3 linked regions of the Homo sapiens genome follow. The protein of the gene in region 1 interacts with the protein of each later gene in a pairwise test. Each region holds a gene or a part of one and is shown in the gene's direction. Other genes may lie near its edges. The genes, in order: ATXN1L, MYOZ3 and KRTAP19-7.

Region 1 (3,753 bases):
AAAACACTCAGATGATTTAGATGACAGCAGTAACTTCACTATGTTTTTTCCCATTTGTGCTGTGTGTATGTGTGCGTGTGTGTGTGTGTCTGTGTGTGTGTCTGTGTGGTACTTGATAATTTTTTATGGCCCTATGTGTCCATCCAGGTGAGAAAATATAATTGAGATCTAAGGCTTCCCTAGAAAGAATCTTAGAGATCATGCATTGTATCTGGATCTCAACTTACTTTTTTTATTTCTAAGATAATATTCTCCTAAATATTCAAACAATAATATAAGTTGTTTCTTTGCCTTTTGACCACCACCCAATTCCACTTTCCTTCCCAAAAATAACCAATGTTAATTAGTTATGTGTTCTACTCCTTTTCTGTACAGATACACAGAAATACATACAACCGACGCTGGGTGTGGTTGGCTCATGACTGAAATGTCAGCACTTTGGGAGGCCGAGGAGGGAAGATCACTTGAGCACAGGAGTCTAAGACCAGCCTGGGCAACATAGCAAGACCTTGTCTCTGCAAGAAATTTTAAAAAATTAGCTGGGCATGGTAGTGCATGCCTATCATCGCACCTACCCCAGAGGCTGAGGTGGGAGGACTGCTTGAGCACAGGAATTTGAGGCTGCAGTGAGCTAAGATGGCACCACTGCACTCTAACCTGGGCGACAGGGCTAAAAAAAAAAAAAAATTATATGTACACACACACACACACATACACGCAACTGCAATGACATATCTTTTTTTTTCTTTTTTTTTTTTTAAGACGGAGTCTCACTCTATTGCCCAGGCTGGAGTGCAGTGGCACGATCTCGGCTCACTGCAAGCTCTGCCTCCCGGGTTCATGCCATTCTCCTGCTTCAGCCTCCCGAGTAGCTGGGAGTACAGGTGCCCGCCACCATGCCCGGCTAATTTTCTGTATTTTTAGTAGAGACGGGGTTTCGCCGTGTTAGCCAGGATGGTCTGCGATCTCCTGACCTCGTGATCCGCCGGCCTTGGCCTCCCAAAGTGCTGGGATTGCAGGCGTGAGCCACCGCGCCTGGCCCAATTGTTATTTATTGAACAGAGTTTGAAGAAACTGAAAGTCTCCATTTCGGTGGCCAAAACCGCAATTACTTTTGCACCAACCTAATACTTTAAAACAAACAACAACAAAAACACAGTTGTTATTCAAACATAAATTCAACTGGCGCTCACTTTTGTCTTCACTTAAGTTAATCAGATGTTCATGTTACTATGAAGTTGACCAGTTAATTTGTAATGAATAATTAGTTAATTTGTAATGAATAATATTTCACTGAGTAGTCAAGCCCTCTTTCCACTAAACCAAGCTGCTTCTCACTGTACTAAACCCCGGGCTCTCTCTAAACTTTCAGGTGTTCCACTCCTTGTCACCTTCCCCTAGATCCTGAGTGGGGTTCACTCTTAGCTCCCTCGGGGGCCACTTCTCAACACTTACAGAGCTCCTATTGACCTGGCACGGTGGCTCACGCCTGTAATCCCAGCACTTTGGCAGGCCGAGGTGTGGGGATCACCTGAGGTCGGGAGTTCGAGACCAGCCTGACCAGCAAGGAGAAACCCTGTCTCTACTAAAAATACAAAAAATTAGCCAGGTGTGGTGGCGCATGCCTGTAATCCCAGCTACTCGGGAGGCTGAGATAGGAGAATTGCTTGAACCTGGCAGGCGGAGGTTGGGTGAGCCGAGATCGTGCCATTGCACTCTAGCCTGGGCAACAAGAGCGAAACTGTCTCCAAAAAAAAGAAAGAAAAGAAAAAAAGAAGACTTCCTATCTCCACCTGGGTCCCCAAGAGGTAAGAGGTATCTCCTTTTCTCCTGAGCCTAGGTCACCTCGGGGTCCCCCGAAGTTCCCCAGAAGGGGCTGCACAAGTCAGGACAAGAAGTCCAGGAAATGGGGGGTCGCCGATGACCACGCCCCGGGGCTCTGTTTGGGAACCCCCAAAATTTACTGAGGTGGAAAGATTGCGGGGTCATTGTGGGGTCAGGCTGAGGGGGCCGGGCCCAGCCCTATTCACGTGACCCGGTCCCAGGGAGAGGAGTTTGTTCACCCACCAGAGGGAACGCCCGACGCGAAGGCAGTGTGGCACCCTCCCTTCCCGGGGAGTCCTGGGCGTTGCTCTCCCACCCCGGCCGTGACGCAATCTCTCCGCGCCGGGGGCGGGACGAGCTTGACGCCATCTCCGGGCGCCCGGCTGTGGGGGGCGCTGGGTGTGGGGCGGCTCCGGGGCCGGGGATGGCGGCGGCCGCGGTTGCGGCGGCTCCGGGACGAGTGAGTGGATCCTGGGAAGCGCTGTGAAATGGGCTGGTGAGTGTCCCTGGAAGTGGTGGCCGCCGGGGCCAGGCAGGCCTGGGGTCGGTGCTCCGGAGGAAGTGGCCCTCAGGAGCCCGTTGCTCCGGCGGGCCGGGGCCCATGAACCGTGGACAGACGGAGGGGAGAGGCCGCACCTAGACCCCCTCGCGCTTCTCTCTGGCCTGTCCTGGAAGGTGGCCTCAGGCCCCGGCGCCCCGGAGGCTGTGTGCCTGCGAGCCAAGGTGTCCGAGTCTGTGGGGCGGGAAGGGCCCCCAAACAAGGAAGCGTCGCCTGCAGGGCCTCGCCCCTGCCCCCTTGGTGAAGGGTGGACCCCCTACTCTCTAAACGCAGAATTCCCAATTTCGAGCCCTACCCTTGTTGGATCAAGGATTGCGGGACCACTGGGAGCCATAACCGTAGTCTCTGACAAGCTTCTCCCTTTCTGTCGGGCGCACCTCTCGCCCGCAGAGAATTTGGGTCTCCAGCTGGGTTCAGCCCCTTGATTCCGACCCAAGCGTGATGAGGAGCTTGGTTCCGGGCTCTGCTAGCAGCGTTGGCAACTCTCCTGAACAGCCTGTTAGCTCGGTTGGGGTCACAAGCTGCGTTTTCCCTTTGAGATGCTCAGTGAGGTTCTCGAGAGGCGGAGGTTTCGGATTCTTAAGTGTGTTTTGCGTTGTGGGAACCTGGCGCACAGGCTTGGCTCTTTGTTTTCCTTTCTGCAGACCTTTTGCCTCTTTCGGTCCCTTTACTAGCCTGTGTTTGCTAACTTCTCGGTGACCTGGAGGCAGGTTTTCTTTAAAGTTTTCGTTACAGAAAGCAAGGATCATTTTGGGATTGAAGTGTGACCCCAGTTTCTGTTGGGAATGAAGAAGAAAGCAAGCTGCTTTTCAGTTATTAAAGCTGCTGGTGGAGAAAAGAGTCATTATTTATGCCACTGTGTAATAATATGTGTTTGTGGAATTAGGAATTTGTTTTCCCACTGTGTTTTCCTATCCTTCCACCTTTTGTGTACACCTGCACCTTGCCAATCTTAAGAGAGAAATGTTGCATTCGGTTTGGGTTGAGGCTTAGAGTGTTCTATAGGACTTGGACAGGATAGTCAGTTTCTCAGAGCACTCACTCATCTGTACTGCCTTCTCTGTTTTCAGAGGTTAAGGCTCCATTCTTTCTCGCTTTGCGTTTCTGGCAAGTGTAGATTCACATAGTGATGGTTTAGTGGTAGTTTTGTTTCACCAGTGTTAGCCAGCTGAGGACCAAGGCAATATTTTCAGTTTCTTTCATACCTGATTCAGCACTTGGTATACTGTCACTCAGAAAATTTTACATACACACACACATATGCTCATTTTTTTTTAACCCTGAAAATCTCTTAATAAGTCTTCTCCTTGAGTGACTCCCCCCTGACCTCTTTTTCTGCCCCAGAAACATAAATAATTGTTCTTTTTCAT
Region 2 (3,753 bases), on another chromosome or scaffold:
AATGCTAGCTAAGCACTTTGCAGGTATCTCATTTAATGCTCATAGACCCCTCTGAGGAAGAGATCTTCATCACCATCATCCTCATTCTATCGAGAAGGACATTGAGGCTCAGGGAAATTAAGTATCTTGCCCGGACTCGGCATTACAATAGCAATTAACATATATCGAGTATTTCTCGGTCCCAGGCACTGGGTTTAGCGTTGTAAACTAGTAACTCATCCTTGTTCCCCGATGATGGGCGTTAGGATTCTTGCCTCCCCCCGACCTTTTTTTTTGGTGGAGGGAGAACCCTGGTCCCCTGCCCCGCTGAGCTTCTCTGCGGTTTATTCTACCCCCTCGTTCCCAGATGCTGGCCGGAAGCGCCAGGAGGAAGGTGACTGGAACAGCGGAGTCGGGGACGGTGAGCGTGGAGGGGAGCTCCCTGGAAGGGAAGCTGGGGGAAGGGGAGCGCGGCTGGGGGCGGGAGGTCGTCGGTGGCCTCTGAGAACCCGCCCCTGTGCCCAGGTTGCCAATGCCAATGGCCCTGAGGGGCCGAACTACCGCTCGGAGCTCCACATCTTCCCGGCCTCACCCGGGGCCTCACTCGGGGGTCCCGAGGGCGCCCACCCTGCAGCCGCCCCTGCTGGGTGCGTCCCCAGCCCCAGCGCCCTGGCGCCAGGTGAGTGGCCTCCTCGGGTCCCGGGACCAGGGCTGGGGGGCCTGAAGCATGGGTGTGCTCCCCATGGGGCAGGAAGAGCACCCAGAAGGCTAGTCCGCCCCCTTCCCCAACACACACGCGCACGCGCGCACTCCCCTCGCCAGACCACGAGCCGGAGGGGCGCCGCGCCCCAGGTCACACAGCGAGTCAGCCAAGGCCAAGACCAACCCGCGCTGCGAACTCGTGGCTTCCTCACTGCAGTCCTCCGTGTTTCCTGGGATGGGGAGGGGTCTCCTGTGCTGGAGCAACTGTGGCTTCCCATTCCCGCCGTCCTCTCCCCTAACTCCGATCTTCCCTCCTCCAACCGCGTCCGCGGAATGGGGGTGGGGCGAGGTGGGGTTGGGGGCTGAGGGTGGAAGAACGGAGGCGCTCCCTTCCCCCCGCGCCCCTAGGCTATGCGGAGCCGCTGAAGGGCGTCCCGCCAGAGAAGTTCAACCACACCGCCATCTCCAAGGGCTACCGCTGCCCTTGGCAGGAGTTCGTCAGCTACCGGGACTACCAGAGCGATGGCCGAAGTCACACCCCCAGCCCCAACGACTACCGAAATTTCAACAAGTAAGGCGGGGCGGGCAGCCCGGGGGACAGACCGGGAGGGGCGGGAAGCCAGTCACAGCCACAGCGGGAGCCTGCGTTTCCTGAGCACTTTCTGCAGGCCAGGCTCTGTCCCCAGCGCTTTCTATTCATTGACTGAGCTCTGGCTGGAACAGCGCCTCCGCACCTGGTAGGTGCTCAGTTAACGTGGGAGAAATGAAGAGTGAAGGTGCCGCACATCTTGGATATTCTCCAGGACATGGTGGGCGGGTGCTATGAGTTTTCCTGTTCTGCAGATGAAGAGGCTGCGGCTCAGGAATATGAACAACCCGGCCAAAGCCACAAAACAAGGAAGCACCGGCAGGGCCGGGATTCAGGTCTGGGTTTGTCTGACTCCAGAGCCCAGTGCCTTGTTCTCCATGGCTGCTGTGTGCTACCTCTTTGATGAACATCTAGATTTGTGTCCTTCTCTGAGGGGTCCCCAGATTTCAGCAGTTCGAGGCCAGCTCAGCTTTTCCTTTCACCAATGGCCTAGAAGAGGCCAACAAGGTAGCTTTGAGGCTGCCCCAAAGTGGAGAGTGGCAGTGAAACATTGGACGCCAGAGTGAGGGCCACAGCGCAGTGGCCTATATGGGTTTAGAGCGTGAGGCCTCCACGTGGACTTGAATGCAGACCCCAGGCCTGCCCGTGTTGACCTTGGGCAAGTGACTTAACCTCTCTGAGCCTCCATTGCCCCACCTGTAAAATGAGGGGTTTATAGTACCTGCTTCATAAAGTTGCTATGGAGATGACACGAGAAGCCATAGGTAAAGTTTCTGGCAAGTAAGACACTTGCAACAAACAATAGCTATTATTGTTGTTGTTGTTATTATTATTATTTGAGACGGAGTCTCACACTGTCACCCGGGCTGGAGTGCAATGGCGCAATCTCAGCTCACTGCAACCTCTTCCTCCTGGGTTCAAGCGATTCTCCTGCCTTAGCCTCCCTAGTAGCTGGGATTACAGGCGCCCACCACCGTGCCCGGCTAATTTTTTGTATTTTTAGTAGAGACAGGGTTTCACTATGTTGGCCGGGCTGGTCTCGAACTCCTGAACTCGTGATCCACCCGCCTTTGCCTCCCAAAGTGCTGGGATTACAGGCATGAGCCACCGCCCCCGGCGTATTATGATTATTATTTACAGCTGAGATGAAGTTTGGACAGGGGAGAGCTTGAAAGGGATACATTTACCATTCTGCACTGAGGGCCTGAAAACAAACCATAGGAATCAAGACAGGAGCTTGGCACTGGGGGAAGGCCTTGGGCTGAGGAGTGCATGTTAACTGCATTGGCTTCCTTGGTCTGGTGCTATTTTTGAATATGCTCCTCTGGTTTGGGCTGCATTTAGTGAGGAAAAGGGGAGTCCACAGAGAGGACGCCACGGTCCTGCTCTTCTGGCATTTGCTCAGACCACACGTGGAGACTGGGTCTGTCTAAGACAGACGGGTGGGCGCCAGAGCCTAGCTAGGCCTGGAAAATCAGCACATATGAGGAAGGGCTGAAGGAACTGGGGGTGATCTGCCTTGAGAAGAGACAGCTCCAGAGGGATGTGACTGCCCTCAAATATCTGAATAGGCAGAGACTTCCTGATGGGAAGAATTGGGCTTAGCATGCGCTGTGTGAGTCACGAGCCATTAACAGACATTCTGGAGTTCCCTGGCAGGCAGGACTGCCCTATCTCCTCCTGGGCCCTCAGACCCTGCCTGCCCAGTCATTTGAAACCTGCAGCAGACATTCAGTCCTGGCAGGCAGCTTCCAGGCTGGGCCACTCAGGTTGCATCTCCCACTGATCTCATGCCTCATGTATGACAGCAAGGCACATTCCCACCAGCAGAAAGAGGCTCTTAGGGAGCCCTGCATCCAGACCTCTTCTGAGGGAGAAAGACCAACTGAGGCATAGAGAAGAGAAACAGCAGTTTGGGTGGCCAAGATGTGCTCAGCTTCCAGGGTCCTGGGCTCCCAGTCAAGGGCCTGACTGTGGGCCTTGCATGGCTTGGACACCACCCAGCCTGTTCCTGTGAGGCCTGGCTGTTGCCACCAAAACTGGGGTGGTCCAGGCAGAAATGCTTTCCTGGCTGGGACTCAGGCCCTGGCTCAAGGTTTGTCTTTCCACCCCAGAGGCAAGCACTCTCCTCTTCCCACTGGTCCCAGGCTGCTGGAAAAACAACACAAGCAATGATTTTTATTTTTCTTAAAATTAAGAAACAGTATTAAGGCCGGGCGCAGTGGCTCATGCCTGTAATCCCACTTTGGGAGGCCGAGGGAGGCGGATCACTTGAGGTCAGAAGTTCAAGACCAGCCTGGCCAACATGATGAAATCTCATTTCTACTAAAAATACAAAAATTAGCTGGGCTTCTTGGCACACACTTGTAATCCCAGCTACTCAGGAGGCTGAGGTGGGAGAATCGCTTGAACCTGGGAGGCGGAGGTTGCAGTGTGCCGAGATCCTTCTACTACACTCTAGCCTGAGTGACAGAGCAAGACCC
Region 3 (2,862 bases), on another chromosome or scaffold:
TCTATTCCTGATAATAATATTTTCCCTACCAAGCAAATATATCTGGTTTTATCTGGATTGTGACAAGTGCTAAAGATAATAGTCTTTTTAAAAAATTACCTAAAATTATATTGAACCTACATTTTCTTAACTGAAGCAAATTCAAATACAGCAATTCTTTACCATTAATAATTCCCTTCAACTTGTAGTTTGCAAAGTTCCCTCAGGATGGAAATATGTTAAGTACCTAGTTATGTAGCACTTTTAATAAACTGGTAAAGGAAATAAGTTTAATCAGTATAAATGAAGTTCAAAAATAACCTGTATTCTTTGAGGTTCCTGGATAAAGAAAATGTGGCACATATATACCATGGAATACTCTGCAGCCATAAAAAAGGATGAGTTCATGTCCTTTGCAGGGACATGGATGAAGCTGGAACCACCATTCTCAGCAAACTAACACAAGAACAGAAAAGCAAACACCACATGTTCTCACTCATAAGTGGGAGTTAATCAATGAGAACACATGGACACAGGGAGGGGAACATCACACACCAGGGCCTGTCAGGGGGTGGGGGACTAGGGGAGGGACAGCATTAGGAGAAATACCTAACATAGACGATGGGTCGATGGGTGCAGCAAACCACCATGGCACATGTATACCTATGTAACAAACCTGCGCGTTTTGCACATTTACCTCAGTACTTAAAGTGTATATATACATACATACATGTATATATATATATATACATATATATATATATATAGCAGGAGTAGCTGAGCATATATGCTTACTGGTTTCATGTCATTTGCTTTTATTTATATTGATGATATGAAACAAAAATATAAGGCAGCTGGGCATTGTGGGAGAAGATATACCCTAACCTGCAATCTTTGATTTCAAATGCATCTGCTGAACTAAGGCCAATAATCAAAGTACTTAGGTTTTAGTCCTAATCTGCCACTAAGTTTCACTGTTGCGTAACTCTGCTTGTCTCTCTGAATCCATTTTTCTCATCAGTAACAAGAACACTGAAATAAATGATGACTCAAGTCTCTTTAATTCTATAATTATATGATCCTATGATAGTACGAAATTTAGAATCTAGACTAAGATTAAATTTGGGGAGAGGAAACTATTCATAAGGGATTGGCAGGGACTTTATGCACACTTTAATGGTATCTACTAAGCAGGCTGGCTCTACATGAAGCATAATATTTGAGAAATTCCTTTGACATTAATTTGTGACTCTTTTAAAAATTAAATATCATCATTCCACTATAAAATGTGGTTCCCAGCTGACTTTAAAAGCACATTGTATAAAGACATACATCATAGTTGATTGCCATTTCAGAGAACAATAATGTTTCAATTTTTGTGAATTCTTGGCAGAATAAAGATAACATCCTTGGCTTAGAAAAGGCTCAGCAGCCATGGACTGTCAAAGGAAAGAGTGCAATCAGAGGATAAATGTAATTGCATGAGATGCAATTTGAAGAATACTTGAAGCTATAGAGATTTGTTTATGGCATTTGAAACTCAGAAACTCATACATGTACAGTGAATATAAATGCAACTACATTTTATTAGAGGCAAAACACTTATCTAGAAATCCAAATAAAGCAGAAAATAAAACATGTTGTATAATTTCTAAATAACTAGCTTCATAAACAAGGAAGAGAGTGGGATGGGTGTTACAAAACAAGATAGTTGGCATAGTTTTCAGGTAACACGTTCTAAGGGATGACATTTAAAGGTGTGGCTTTCCACATGCATCAGAGTATATATAAATGTTCCTGTCCAGTCACAGTCACCAAACTGACCTACAACAGCTAACCACTTCTGACAACATGAGCTACTCCGGCAGCTACTATGGAGGCCTAGGCTACGGCTGTGGAGGATTCGGTGGCCTGGGCTATGGCTATAGCTGTGGATGTGGCAGCTTCCGCAGACTGGGCTATGGCTGTGGCTATGGAGGCTACAGATACAGCTGCTGCCACCCATCATGCTATGGGGGATACTGGTCTTCTGGATTCTATTGAATAAATACTTGAAATATAGTCTTCTGTGAGATTCCCAATTCTTCCAAGAAACTTTATTCCATAACCATATGGAATTCCATATTCCATAACAAAACAGCTGCTTGGATCACCTGCCTTTTGACAATAGTGTGAAGAAAACTTGATCAACTAGATATTGGCATTTGATTAGTGATGTTCTCCAGATATTCACTTTTTTATTGGCTGGAGAGCCATTATACTCTAAGAAAGATTGTCTTTCAATATCTGATATCTAACCATGAACTTTTTCTCATGTGGTAAATGTGTTTTGAGCCTCAAATTTTTATCACAATAAATGTGCTGTGATGCATTAATATAATCAACCATGGTGATATTTTCTTCTTATAGATAAAAAAATTACCAATACGTTATATGTCACGATTATTTCTTCACCCTCCTCCTCCTCGTCATTCTTCCTGTCCCTTAAACCTTCTTCCTCCCTTTCCATCCCTTTCCTCTCCTTTATCTTCTTTTCTTTATCCCCTTCTCCTTTGTCTTCTTCCTCCTCCTCATCTTTAACATTCTCAATATCTATATTTTCTTGTCCAGGCAAACAGGAATTCTACACCAAAAGGTTAAAGATGCTTCTGTGGTGATAAACTTCTGCTTAATCTTTTAATTCACTATTTCTTGGAGAATATCTTGATAATTTCAGAGCAATATAATAAGAAAAGGTTTTAGCTTGCACATAGATTATAACATTGGAGAACAACAGTGTGAAGGAATTATATCAAAGTATTAACAATAGCTTTATCTAGGAGATGGGAATATGGTGGCTGGTGTAATAGTTATTCTTTCTTCTTTTGTGTATGTTTAAAAAAT

Evidence for each region.
Region 2: the proteins of ATXN1L (region 1) and MYOZ3 interact in binary tests that used the Homo sapiens proteins (3 or more experiments, as listed by UniProt).
Region 3: the proteins of ATXN1L (region 1) and KRTAP19-7 interact in binary tests that used the Homo sapiens proteins (3 or more experiments, as listed by UniProt).

The regions. Positions count from the first base shown.
Region 1 is NC_000016.10:71,843,785-71,847,537, forward strand, and holds the start of ATXN1L (ataxin-1-like), read left to right. Parts: upstream 1-2,191; 5' UTR 2,192-2,320; intron 2,321-3,753. UniProt on the Homo sapiens protein: Chromatin-binding factor that repress Notch signaling in the absence of Notch intracellular domain by acting as a CBF1 corepressor. Binds to the HEY promoter and might assist, along with NCOR2, RBPJ-mediated repression.
Region 2 is NC_000005.10:150,671,251-150,675,003, forward strand, and holds part of MYOZ3 (myozenin-3), read left to right. Parts: intron 1-346; coding exon 347-400; intron 401-504; coding exon 505-658; intron 659-865; exon of another isoform or gene 866-1,089; coding exon 1,090-1,252; intron 1,253-3,753. UniProt on the Homo sapiens protein: Myozenins may serve as intracellular binding proteins involved in linking Z line proteins such as alpha-actinin, gamma-filamin, TCAP/telethonin, LDB3/ZASP and localizing calcineurin signaling to the sarcomere.
Region 3 is NC_000021.9:30,560,258-30,563,119, reverse strand, and holds KRTAP19-7 (keratin-associated protein 19-7), read left to right. Parts: upstream 1-1,805; 5' UTR 1,806-1,830; coding exon 1,831-2,022; 3' UTR 2,023-2,245; downstream 2,246-2,862. UniProt on the Homo sapiens protein: In the hair cortex, hair keratin intermediate filaments are embedded in an interfilamentous matrix, consisting of hair keratin-associated proteins (KRTAP), which are essential for the formation of a rigid and resistant hair shaft through their extensive disulfide bond cross-linking with abundant cysteine residues of hair keratins.